2 separate regions of the Homo sapiens genome follow, and region 1 is linked to region 2. The links come from fine-mapping of genetic effects on plasma protein levels. Region 2 holds a variant in brackets. A gene starts in the other region. All regions are shown on their reverse strands. Region 1 holds the start of PGLYRP2 (peptidoglycan recognition protein 2). Region 2 overlaps HGFAC (HGF activator).

The links. PIP is the posterior inclusion probability: the model's chance that the variant is causal. The UK Biobank Pharma Proteomics Project read protein levels with antibody pairs (Olink). The fine-mapping took linkage between variants from a reference panel, not from the people measured, so its PIPs are less certain.
Region 1: PGLYRP2 starts here. The variant in region 2 is fine-mapped to the plasma level of the PGLYRP2 protein (UK Biobank, PIP above 0.99).

The regions. Positions count from the first base shown.
Region 1 is chr19:15,477,260-15,482,625 of GRCh38, reverse strand. It overlaps PGLYRP2 (peptidoglycan recognition protein 2), which reads left to right and starts at 3,125. Exons shown (of 5, transcript NM_052890.4): 1 at 3,125-3,315. The coding sequence starts at 3,255.
Region 2 is chr4:3,447,979-3,453,344 of GRCh38, reverse strand. HGFAC (HGF activator) reads right to left here. Exons shown (of 14, transcript NM_001528.4): 12 at 5,310-5,366; 13 at 5,069-5,217; 14 at 3,859-4,108. The coding sequence ends at 3,926. Among named protein-coding and RNA genes, the nearest start is that of HGFAC, 8.7 kb to the right of the region's middle. RefSeq lists an enhancer at 3,487-4,290. The variant C/T (reference allele first, on the strand shown) is at 2,727.

The DNA.
Region 1 (5,366 bases), not on the chromosome of region 2:
AAGAAAGAAAGAAGGAAGGAAGGAAGGAAGGAAGGAAGGAAGGAAGGAAGGAAGGAAGGAAGAAAGAAAGAAAGAAAGAAAGAAAGGAAGAAAGAAAGAAAGAAAAAAGAAAGAAAGGAGGGAGGGAGGAAGGGGGGAGGGAGGGAAGGAAGGAAGGAAGGAGAAGGGAAGAAAGGAGAAGGAAGAGAAGGAAGAAAATATGGAAGAGGAAGTATATTTACTATTCATTAAGTAGAGAATCATCATAAAGGTCTTCATCCTCACCGTCTTCATGTTGAGTAGGCTGAGGAGGAGGAAGAGGAGGGGTCTTGCTGTCTCAGGGGTGGCAGAGGTGGAAGAGGAGGAAGGGGAGAGGAGAGGCAGGCACAGTCCATGTAATTTTTATTGAAACAAATCCAGATATAAGTTGACCCTCACAGGTCAAACCCATGTTGTTCAAGGGTCAACTGTACTCCGTATGACACTCTAGTGGTGGACATATGTCATTATACATTTGTCCAAACCCATAGAATGTACACCACCAAGAGCAAACCCTAATGGAAATGATGAACTTTGGGTGATAATGATGTGTCAGTGAAGGTTCATCGATTGTAACAGATATACCATTCTGGTGCTGGATAGTGATAATACGAGAGTCTGTGCATGTGTCAAGGCAGGGAGTAGAACTCTCTGTAACTTCTGCTCAATTTTGTCACGAACCTAAAACTGCTCTAGGCCAGGCATGGTGGCTCACGCCTGTAATCCCAGCACTTTGGGAAGCTAAGGCAGGAGGATCCCTTGAGTCCAGGAGATGAGACCAGCCTGGCCAACATAGCGAGACCCTCATCTCTATAAAAAATTAAAAATAGAGGCCGATGCGGGTGGATCACCTGAGGTCAGGAGTTCAAGACCAGCCTGGCCAACATGGTGAAACTACATCTGTACTAAAAGTACAAAAATCAGCCGGGAGTGGTGACGGGGACCTGTAATCCCAGCTACTCGGGAGGCTGAGGCAGGAGAATAGCTTGAACCTGGGAGGCAGAGGCTGCAGTGAGCCAAGATTGTGCCACTACACTGCAGCCTAGGCAACAGAGCGAGACTCTGTCTCAAAAAAAAAAAAAAAAAAAAAAAAAGCCTGTAATCCCAGCACTTTGAGAGGCCAAGACAGGTGGATCACCCGAGGTTGGGAGTTTGAGACCAGCCTGGCCAACATGCTGAAATCCCGTCTCTACTAAAAATACAAAAATTAACTGGAAGTGGTGGACGGGCACCTGTAATCTCAGCTCCTTGGGAGGCTGAGGCAGGAGAATCACTTGAACCTGGGAAGCAGGGCTGCAGTAAGCCAAGATTGCACCACTACACTCCAGCCTGGGTGACAGAGGGAGACCCTGCCTCAAAAAATAATAATAATAAAATAAAAAATAAAGCTGGGTGCAGTGGCTCACGCCTGTAATCCTAGCATTTCGGGAGGCCGAGGCAGGAGGATTGCTTGAGGCCAAGAGTTTAAGACCAACCTGGCCAGCATATCAAGACTCCATCTTTAAAAATAATAATAATAATAAAACTGTTCTAAAAAAGTCTTAAAATTATTTATCGGCCGGGCATGGTGGCTCACGCTTGTAATCCCAGCAATTTGGTAGGCCAAGTTGGGTGGATCACCTGAGTCAGGGGTTCAAGACCAGCCTGGCCTACGTGGCAAAACCCCGTCTCTACTAAAAATACAAAAATTAGCCAGGCATGGTGGCGCATGCCTGTAACCTGAGCTACTTGGTAGGCTGAGGCAGGGAGGCAGGAGAATTGCTTGAATCTGGGAGGTGGAGGTTGTAGTGAGCTGAGATCGTGCCATTGCACTCCAGCCTGGGTGACAGAGCGAGACTCCGTCTCAAAAAAAAAAAAAGTTATTGATGACTTAGATTTTCAACACTGCCTTAAATTTTGCGGCAAAGAGGATGCCTCAACCTAGTCCCTGCCTCAGCCCACAACCTTCATATGGTTCTACCAGGCAAAGCTCCTATCCCCAAATCCTGGGAAACGAGCTTGGAGGAGGACATTGTCTCTTACTCCCATGGGAAGTGTCCCCCATTCACTCTATCACTTAGCACCCTACATCCTGAGCTTCCACTATGTGCCCAGCTTTTTTCTGGGAGGTCCCCAGAAAGAGGACACCTGAGGAGGCCCCAGGGGTGGCCCCCAGGGGAATCCCAGGCCTGGCTCAGGCTGGACATTCCCAGGCCTGCCCTGGCTGAGTCTCCAGCTGGTGGGTCTCCTGGAAACTCCCCGGGCTGGTTTTGAGGTGGGAGCCCCACAGGGAAGCAATTTACATACACAACAGCCCAGTCATGTCAACCTGCCCCATCTGATGCCAGAATAAAGGGGAGATGGGTCCATTCTGCAGGTCTCAGTCATGGGCACCCGGAGAAGAGGAAGGACATTTCACTGTCAGCCCAGGTGAGTCCAGAAGCCAGCTCCTGGAACAATGCCAGGGTCCTGAACACTCAAGCTCAACCCCTGCTCTCAGCTACTGCTGGTGGCTTGAAATCAAGGGCTGGAACTGGATGAGAGGTGACAGCCCCTGGTCCCCATGGGCTCAGAGCAGGCCTCAGCAAACACTGTCCTCGGCCCCTGCACCCATGCTCTGCCTGAGCCTGAAGTGTTGGTTGCAAAAAAAAGCAGGAGGCAGTGCCAACTTCAGGCCTCAGCAAACACTGTCCTCAGCCCCCGCACCGATGCTGTGCCTGAGCCTGAAGTGTTGGTTGCAAAAAAAAGCAGAAGGCAGTGCCAACTTCAGGCCTCTGCTTCTCTCCTCTCCCTCAACACAGCCGGTCTTACCAGTACAGCAGGCGGCAGCTGAGAGTCCCCTCTGGTGGCCAGCAGCGGCTACAGAGCCGTCACTATGGGGAGGGACAGGACTTGAGGGGTTGCCTCGGTCCACCTCACTGGAGAATGGGCAGAGTTTATGGAGTCTGAACCACCTGGTCTCCAGGCCCCTCTGGGGATGGGCCTGGCTTACTGACCACTGACCTCAGCCTAGGAGGGACAGAAGAGACTGGGGGAGACCAGGATGCCCAGATGACCTTGACCCAGGGTACGCTGCCCCATGTCCCTGCTGCCTCCCGCCCACAGCTCTACGAGAGGCAGGTCTGTCATTCGCCGCTGGACTTTGACAGTGGTCAAAGGCTCTGCTCAGTTCTCTGTGCCTGTCTCCCTCCAGCACTGCCGAGGTTCTCTGCCGAGGCCAACCAGAAATACCCCTTGGAAGCTGGAATCCTGCAACAATGGCCCAGGGTGTCCTCTGGATCCTACTCGGATTGCTACTGTGGTCAGACCCAGGGACAGGTGAGTCAGGGGGCAGAGTCCTGGGACCAAACCTCTTGGCTCTGCAGAAGGCGTACTGCTGTCCCATCTATGTCTTGCCCTGCATGGAGTGAGGCTGGAGACTCAAGCTCTCAAAGAAGCTCCAGCATGGGGACATAGATATTCCCAGCTCCACAGAGTCAAGGCAAGGATAAGGGAAGGAATCTGGGGCCTGGAGAGCAAAAGTAGGGAAGGCTTCTTGGAGGAGGAGACATAAGAGCTAGGCTAGGAAGAAAGAGAAATGATTTGGGGGAGAAGCCAGAAAGGGCATTTTTTGCAGAGAAGAGCAAAGCTACACAGGTTAGGTGGTGGACTGGAGAAGAACCTAGATTCTAGACCAGGAGAGTGTGTCGAGTAAGACTTCCTGGATTCAAATTCTACTACTGGCCAGGCCTGTAATCCCAGCACTTTGGGAGATCAAGGCGGGCAGATCACTTGAGATCAGGAGATCGAGACCAGCCTGGCCAACATGGTGAAACCCCATCTCTACTAAAAATACCAAAAATTAGCCAGGCGTGGTGGCAGGCACCTGTAATCCCAGCTACCCAGGAGGCTGAGGCCAGAAAATTGCTTGAACTCAGGAGGTTGCAGTGAGCTGAGCACTACTGCACTCCAGCCTGGATGATAGAGCAAGACTCCGTCTCAAAAAAAAAAAAAAAAAACAAAGGCAAATCCTGCCTCTGCCACTTCCTTCCTGTGTGACCTTAGGCAGGTAACTTAACCTCTCTGTGCTTCAGATGCCTCATCTGTAAAGGGACACCATCTTAGTCCCTTTGTGCTTCTATATAGGCCAGGGTACCTGAAACTGAGTAAATTTGTAAAGAAGAGAAATTTACTTTCTTGCAGTTCTGCAGGCTAGGAAGTCCCAAATGCCAGTGCTTTGATCTTGGACTTCCCAGCCTCTAGAACTATGAGAAATAAATGTCTGTTCTTTTTTTTTGTTTTTTAGACAGAGTCTGACTCTGTCGCCCAGGCTGGAGTGCAGCAGCATGATCTCAGCTCACTGCAACCTCCACCTCCCGGGTTCAACAGATCCTCCTGCCTCAGCCCCCCAAGTAGCTGGGATTACAGGTGCCCGCCACCGCACCCGGCTAACTTTTGTATTTTTAGTAGAAACGGGGTTTCACCATGTTGGCCAGGCTGGTCTCAAACTCCTGACCTCAAGTGATCCGCCTGCCTCGGCCTCCCAAAGTGCTGGGATTACAGGCATGTGCCAGCACACCTGGCCAAATTTCTGTTTTTCATAAATTACCCAACCTCAGAGATCTGTTATAGCAGCACCAATGTACTAAGACAGGGGCTAAAAGGACCTACCTCACAAGAGTTGTGAAGACTAACTGCGTTAAATTATTAATATATAAGTCACCTAGACTAGTAGCTAGCACATAGTAAATGTTTACTGAAAGTTAGCTATTATTTGATAACCCATCTCTGAACCAGCTCTGAGCCTAACTTAGCATTTCTAGGTTTGCAGTTCAGCCACTGACATTTCCCCAACATGGCACAAGCCCATCCTGCTCTTCCCCCTGCCTCCCAGGCTATTTTATTTTATTTTATTTTATTTTAATTTAATTTTATTTTATTTATTTTATTTTATGATGGAGTCTCACTCTGTCACCCAGGCTGGAATGCAGTGGGGGGTTCTTGGCTCACTGCAACCTCCACCTCCTGGGTTCAAGCAGTTCTCCTGCCTCAGCCTCCTGAGTAGCTGGGGTTACAGGTGTGTGCCACCATGCCCAGCTAATTTTTGTATTTTTAGTAGTGACGGAGTCTCGCCATGTTGATCCGGCTGGTCCTGAGCTCCCGACCTCAGGTGATCCACCCGCCTCTGCCTCCTAAAGTGCTGGGATTACAGGCGTGAGCCACTGCGTCTGGCATTTTTTTTTTTTTTTTTTTTTTTGAGACAAAGTCTCACTCTGTCACCCAGGCTGGAGTGCAGTGGCGCAATCTCGGCTCACTGCAACCTCCACCTCCCATGTTCAAGTGATTCTCCCGTCTCAGCCTCCCAAGTAGCTGGGATTACAGGCACACAC
Region 2 (5,366 bases):
ACTATTAAAGACATTGAATCAGTAGTTAAATACAATCCTGTAAAGAAAACACCAAGACAGGTAATTTTATGGGTGAATTCCATTTAACTTTCAAAGGATAGATCCTTCCAACTATATACAGAATTTTCCAGTGAATTTTGATAAAAGAAGAACTTATTTTATGAGGCTGGGATAGCCTTGATAACAGTCATTCAGAGAATATAGGAAAGGAAAATTATAGGCCAATCTCATAAACATACATGCAAAATCCTAAATAAAATATAAATTTTAAAAAGTTTTTAAAAACCAATACAGCATGTATCAGTCAGGGTCCCAATAGGCGGGCACACACAGTGGAACAGTTCAAGGAGGGTTTTTATATACAAAGTTGTGGTCAAAATGTGGACAATCACAGTCAGAAACTCCAGAGCCCAGGGCTGGTTAAGGTGGAGGGGCCACACCAGTTCTAGAATGCTGGCAATGGCAGGAGTGGACCCCGGAGCCTCAGAAGGAGAAAGTCTTTTACATCTTGAGAGCAGCGCTGACCTTCAGTCCCAGGATGCAGCCAACCTGAGGGTATTTGTTTGCTACGGGGACCATAATAAACTGCCACAGATTGGGTGCCTTCGACAAGAGAAGCTTATCACCTTGCAGTTCTGGAAGCCAGAAGTCCAAAACCCAGGGGGCAGCAGGCTTGGCTCCCTTGGAGTCCAGCAGGGGGCACCTGCTCTAGGCCTCTGGCCCTGGTTTGTGGACGGCCATCTTCTCTCCAGGTGTCTCCCATCGCCCTCCTACTGTACATGTCTGCGTCCTGTAAAAAGAAGCCATTCAAAACCAAAGTTGTTGGAACTTTAAATTATTTTGCATCTTCAAGGAACATGATTATAGGACCTGAGTTGCGTATGACGGTCAGCTGTAGCTTAGGCAGCTGTAACCTTTGTTCCTCTGATTATAGATTAGCTTTTTCTTTACCTACATTGTTCTGTAAAATGTTATAAAAGACTACAGGACACCAGGGAAGACCCCTTCCCTCTTCATGTTGATCTTCACTGTAGATTTGCTCCCCTCTGACTTCTCTTACACAGAGACCTCACTGGCCACCACGTTGTCTAAGACAGAACGTTCAATAGGCTCTTTCAAATTGGAAAAGGAAAAGAAAACAAGCTGTGATTAATCAAATTGCTGTGACTCATAAACCAGCCTTGCATGGGAAGCACTGTAACCCTGTTCAATTTGTTTATTTTCTGCCTGTATAAGCAAGACCTTCACTTTTTGGCTTTGGGGTACTGGCTCTAATCCTCTGGAGTCTGTGTGTCCTGAGTGGCTATTTTCAGCTTCGTGCCTGCATATGCTCTTTTAAACTGGATTCTGATCCTTTTGATTATTTCAGGTGGATAGTCCAAATTTTCTCTTCTCATTAGGACACCAGTCATATTGAGTTAGTGCCCATCCTAATAACCTAATTTGAACTTGATTGCCTTTTTAAACATTCTATCTCCAAATACAGTCACATGCTGGGCTATTAGGGGTTAGGACTTCAACATATGAATTAATTAATTTATTAAAACAGGATCCTGCTCTGTACCCAGGCTGGAGTGCAGTGGCGTGATCATGGCTCACTGCAACCTCCACCTCCTGGTGGAGGTGATCCTTCCCCTTCAGCCTCCTGAGTAGCTGAGACTACAGGTGCATGCCACCATGCCCGGCTAATTTTTTTGTAGAGACTGGGTTTCATCCTGTTGCCCAGGCTGGTCTTGAATTCCCACCTGGGCCTCCCAAAGTGCTGGGATGACAGGTGTGAGCCACTGCGCCCAGTCATCATATGAATTCTAGAAGGACATAATTCCACCTGAAACACTGAGGTGACTGACCCCAAAGAAAGGGAGCCAGGAAAATACATGCCCAGTCTCTCTCCCCTGCCTCTGATCTCCCAATAGCCCAACAAGAAACAAGAGAGTGCACAGCCCATTGCAGACCAGAGAGGCCAGCCTCCCGCGGCAGAGCACGACGGGAACAAGCAGGGCACAAGTGGGAGGGGCAAAGGGAAGACCCCAGCTCACACTTCAGCTCAATACCGTCCACTCGAGGAATACAAGGCCAACCTGAGTTAGAAAACCTATCATGTGCCGGGCGCAGTGACTCACGCCTGTAATCCCAGCACTTTGGGTGGCCGAGTTGGGCGGATCATTTGAAGTCAGGAGTTCAAGACCAGCCTGGGCAACGTGGTGAAACCCCATCTCTACTAAAAATACAAAAATTAGCCGGGCGTGGTGGCAGGCACCTGTAATCCCAGCTACTCGGGAGGATGAGGCAGAAGAATCACTTGAGCCTGGGAGGCAGAGGTTGTGGTAAGCCAAGATCGCGCCACTGCACTCCAGGCTGGGTGGCAGAGTGAGACCCTGTCTCAGAAAGAAAGAAAAAAAATGAAGAAAAGAAAGAAAGAGAGAGAGAGAGAGAAAGAAGAAAGAAAGAAGAAGAAAAAAGAAAAAAGAGAGAAAAAGAGAGAGAGAAAGAAGAAGAAAGGAAGGAAGAAAAGGAAGGAAAGAAGGAAGAAGGGAGGGAGGAAGGAAGGAAGAAGGGAGGGAGGGAGGGAGGGAGGAAGGAAACCTATCATGGAAGTCATCATGTTAGTGAAGCCAAAGGGAAAATGTGTACATTTATCTCAACAGAGGCTGAGGAAGCATGTGAAAATGCTCACCGCTCATGGCGGAAGGGTCAGGGACGGCTCACATCGGATGTGGGTGAAG[C/T]GGGGCTGAAGCCATGAGGTTCAGAGCCCCAGAACCAGCTGCTGGAGGCCCCCACACTCAGGAGGAAGAGCGGCTCCACTCTCAGGATCCTGGGGCACAGGTGCCAGACTCAGTCCCCCAGCCACTGCCCAGGCTGCACCAACACTGTGGCAGGGGCAGGGGTCTTCAGTGGCAAGTTCGTTCCGTGAGCTCGAAGGCTCTGAGGCCCATGCACAGCAGCAGGGGCCGTGGGGAGAAGGGCCTGGCCATGTCTCTCTTCCCTCTTTGCTCAGAACCCGGCTTTGCTTGGGGCGGTAACTGTGTGGCCCCAATGCCCCATTTCCTGCCCTCCCAGCCTCCGTACAGCCTGGGGCGGCGCCAATCTGCTGGGGAAGGGGCTCCCGACGAAAGGGAACAGCTGTAACTGCAAACCACTGCCTCCCCGAGACCAGGACGCCAGGAAGGAGGTGGGGCGCAGGAGAGAAGGTCCTGGGTGCCTCGAAGCAGGGAGGAGGCCTGACCCCCACCAGCCACACTCCCGCCCTCTCTGCCCTCTGGCCCCACCTCCCCCTGTCTCCTGTCCTCCCTGGCTGGAGGGAGGGTACGGCCTCTGCCTGCCCAGCAGTGACCCTCTAACTGGGCCCCATCTAGCACATGGGCCCCTCCCTCCCTCAGCCCCCACAGAGGCAGCCTGTGGCCTCCTCCCTCCCGGGAAGTGCAGCCCAGGCTCAGGCAGGCGGGCTGCCATCTGGAAGACCAACGACGGCCTGCGGGTGTTCCCGTGGGGCCGCTCTTTCTTCTTCAGGTTCAATACTCCGTGCACCACGCGGATCGGACCCCTCCACGCCTGGGGGCCTGGACTTGGTTTCCACTTCCTGCCCTGGGACAACCCAGGTGCTGAGCCCCGGCCTGGGGCTGGCCTGGGAGGGGGCTGGACTCTGCTGGGGCCTGGAGAGGCCCAGACCTCATCCCCTGACAACTCTCTGGGCCGTGGGGCCAGACCCCGCTGTGGGGCCACAGGCTCCGTCTCCACTGAGGACTGTGTGCGCTCCAGAACGGCAGCCTGAGGCCTGCTGCGCATAGACCTGGGCCCCAGTCATGGCCTGGAGGGGAAGGCGGGGCCGCAGGCAGGGGCCAGGCAGCGTGGGCCGGGTTCTTGGAAATATCTTTATTGTCAGCAAGGCAGGGAATGGTGGGAACCAGGGTGTCCCGCTGGAGGGTCAGGAGGGAGCCACAAGCCGCCTGGGAGGCCGTATCCGGTCGTTGATCCAGTCCACATAGTTGGCCACGCGGGTGTAGACCCCCGGCTTGTGGAGCCGCCCGCAGCCGTCACCCCAGCTGATGATGCCGTAGAGGTAAGCCACGCCGTTCTTCTCGCAGGCCAGGGGCCCCCCTGAGTCCCCCTGGGCAGAGACGTTGGTCAGAGCCACCCTCCCAGGGGCCTGGTTCAGGGACCCCCCTCTCCCCCAAGTGGCAGCTTGGGGACAGAGGACAAAGGCATTTCTGAGCAAGGGAGCTGATCCACTCTCCTGAACCTCATGAAAAGGTGTCTCATTCCCTGGGGGCAGCACTGGCTGGGCCAGGGCATCCAACCACGTTATTCCCCTTCCTGAAGCCACGGTCCCCCTCTCCCCACCAGCATGAACCCTGTGTGGACCACACAGCCACCCTGTGTCCCAGCACCTCCTGAAATGACTTCTTCACTCCCTGGAAAACTCCTACGCATCACTCAGGACCAGTGCAAACACTCCCTCCTCCAGGAAACCATCCTGACTTCCCTTATCGAGGTCCAGTGACAAGCCCTACCCACTCTACCACTCCTGGGCTTTGTGGCCTTGGAAGAGTGAATTGACTGCCTGGGGCTCAGTCTCCCCAGCTATAAAATGGGGCATAAGAGAGCCGTCGCATGCCAGGGTTGCCGTGCCGCCTGAGCACACAGGCCTGCAGAGCCCAGGACGTGGTTGGGCTGTTGGGCTTATTGAAGGTTGAAGAACTTATTGAAGGTTGAAGAGCTGGCTTGAGAGAACTCGGGGCAAAGGGGCCTTTGGTGCCTAGTGTCACACGGAAAGCACTGCCTTGGGCTGGACAGCCAGGAACTGTCCGGGCTCTGTGGGACCCCAGGCCCCTCTCAGAGCCTGGGTCTCCCCTTCTGTGTGAGGAGGATGCCCTTCCGGCAGGGCTCTGGGTGGCCCTGGGGTGCTGGCCACCGACAGTAAGTGTGCTCCCTGCCCAGGGGTCCCTGGCTGGCCCTGCCAGGTTGGGGTGCCGCCAGGCTCTGGGCTCCCCAGGGGCAAGCATCTCGGAGACTCAGGACCAGCTGAGCCCCCACCAGTCGGGTCCTGGTGGGGCGGGCACCAGCTCACCTGGCAGGCGTCGGACTTGCAGTCGAAGTAGCCGGCACAGAGCATGTTGGGGCTGATGTCGGCGCCGTAGACCTCAGGGCTGCTGCACTTGTGGTCGGCGACCAGGGGGACCAGGGCCTCCCGCAGGGAGCTGGAGTAGCCGCTCACGTCTGTGGGACACAATGCCCTCAGCGTGACACCCACACTGTGGCTGGCCACTGTCCACCCTGGCGGGGCGCTGGGCGCCCCCCTCCCAACTCACTCTCATCCAAGTGGCCCCAGCCCGCAATCTGGCACTTGTGTCCTGCGGGGAAGGTGC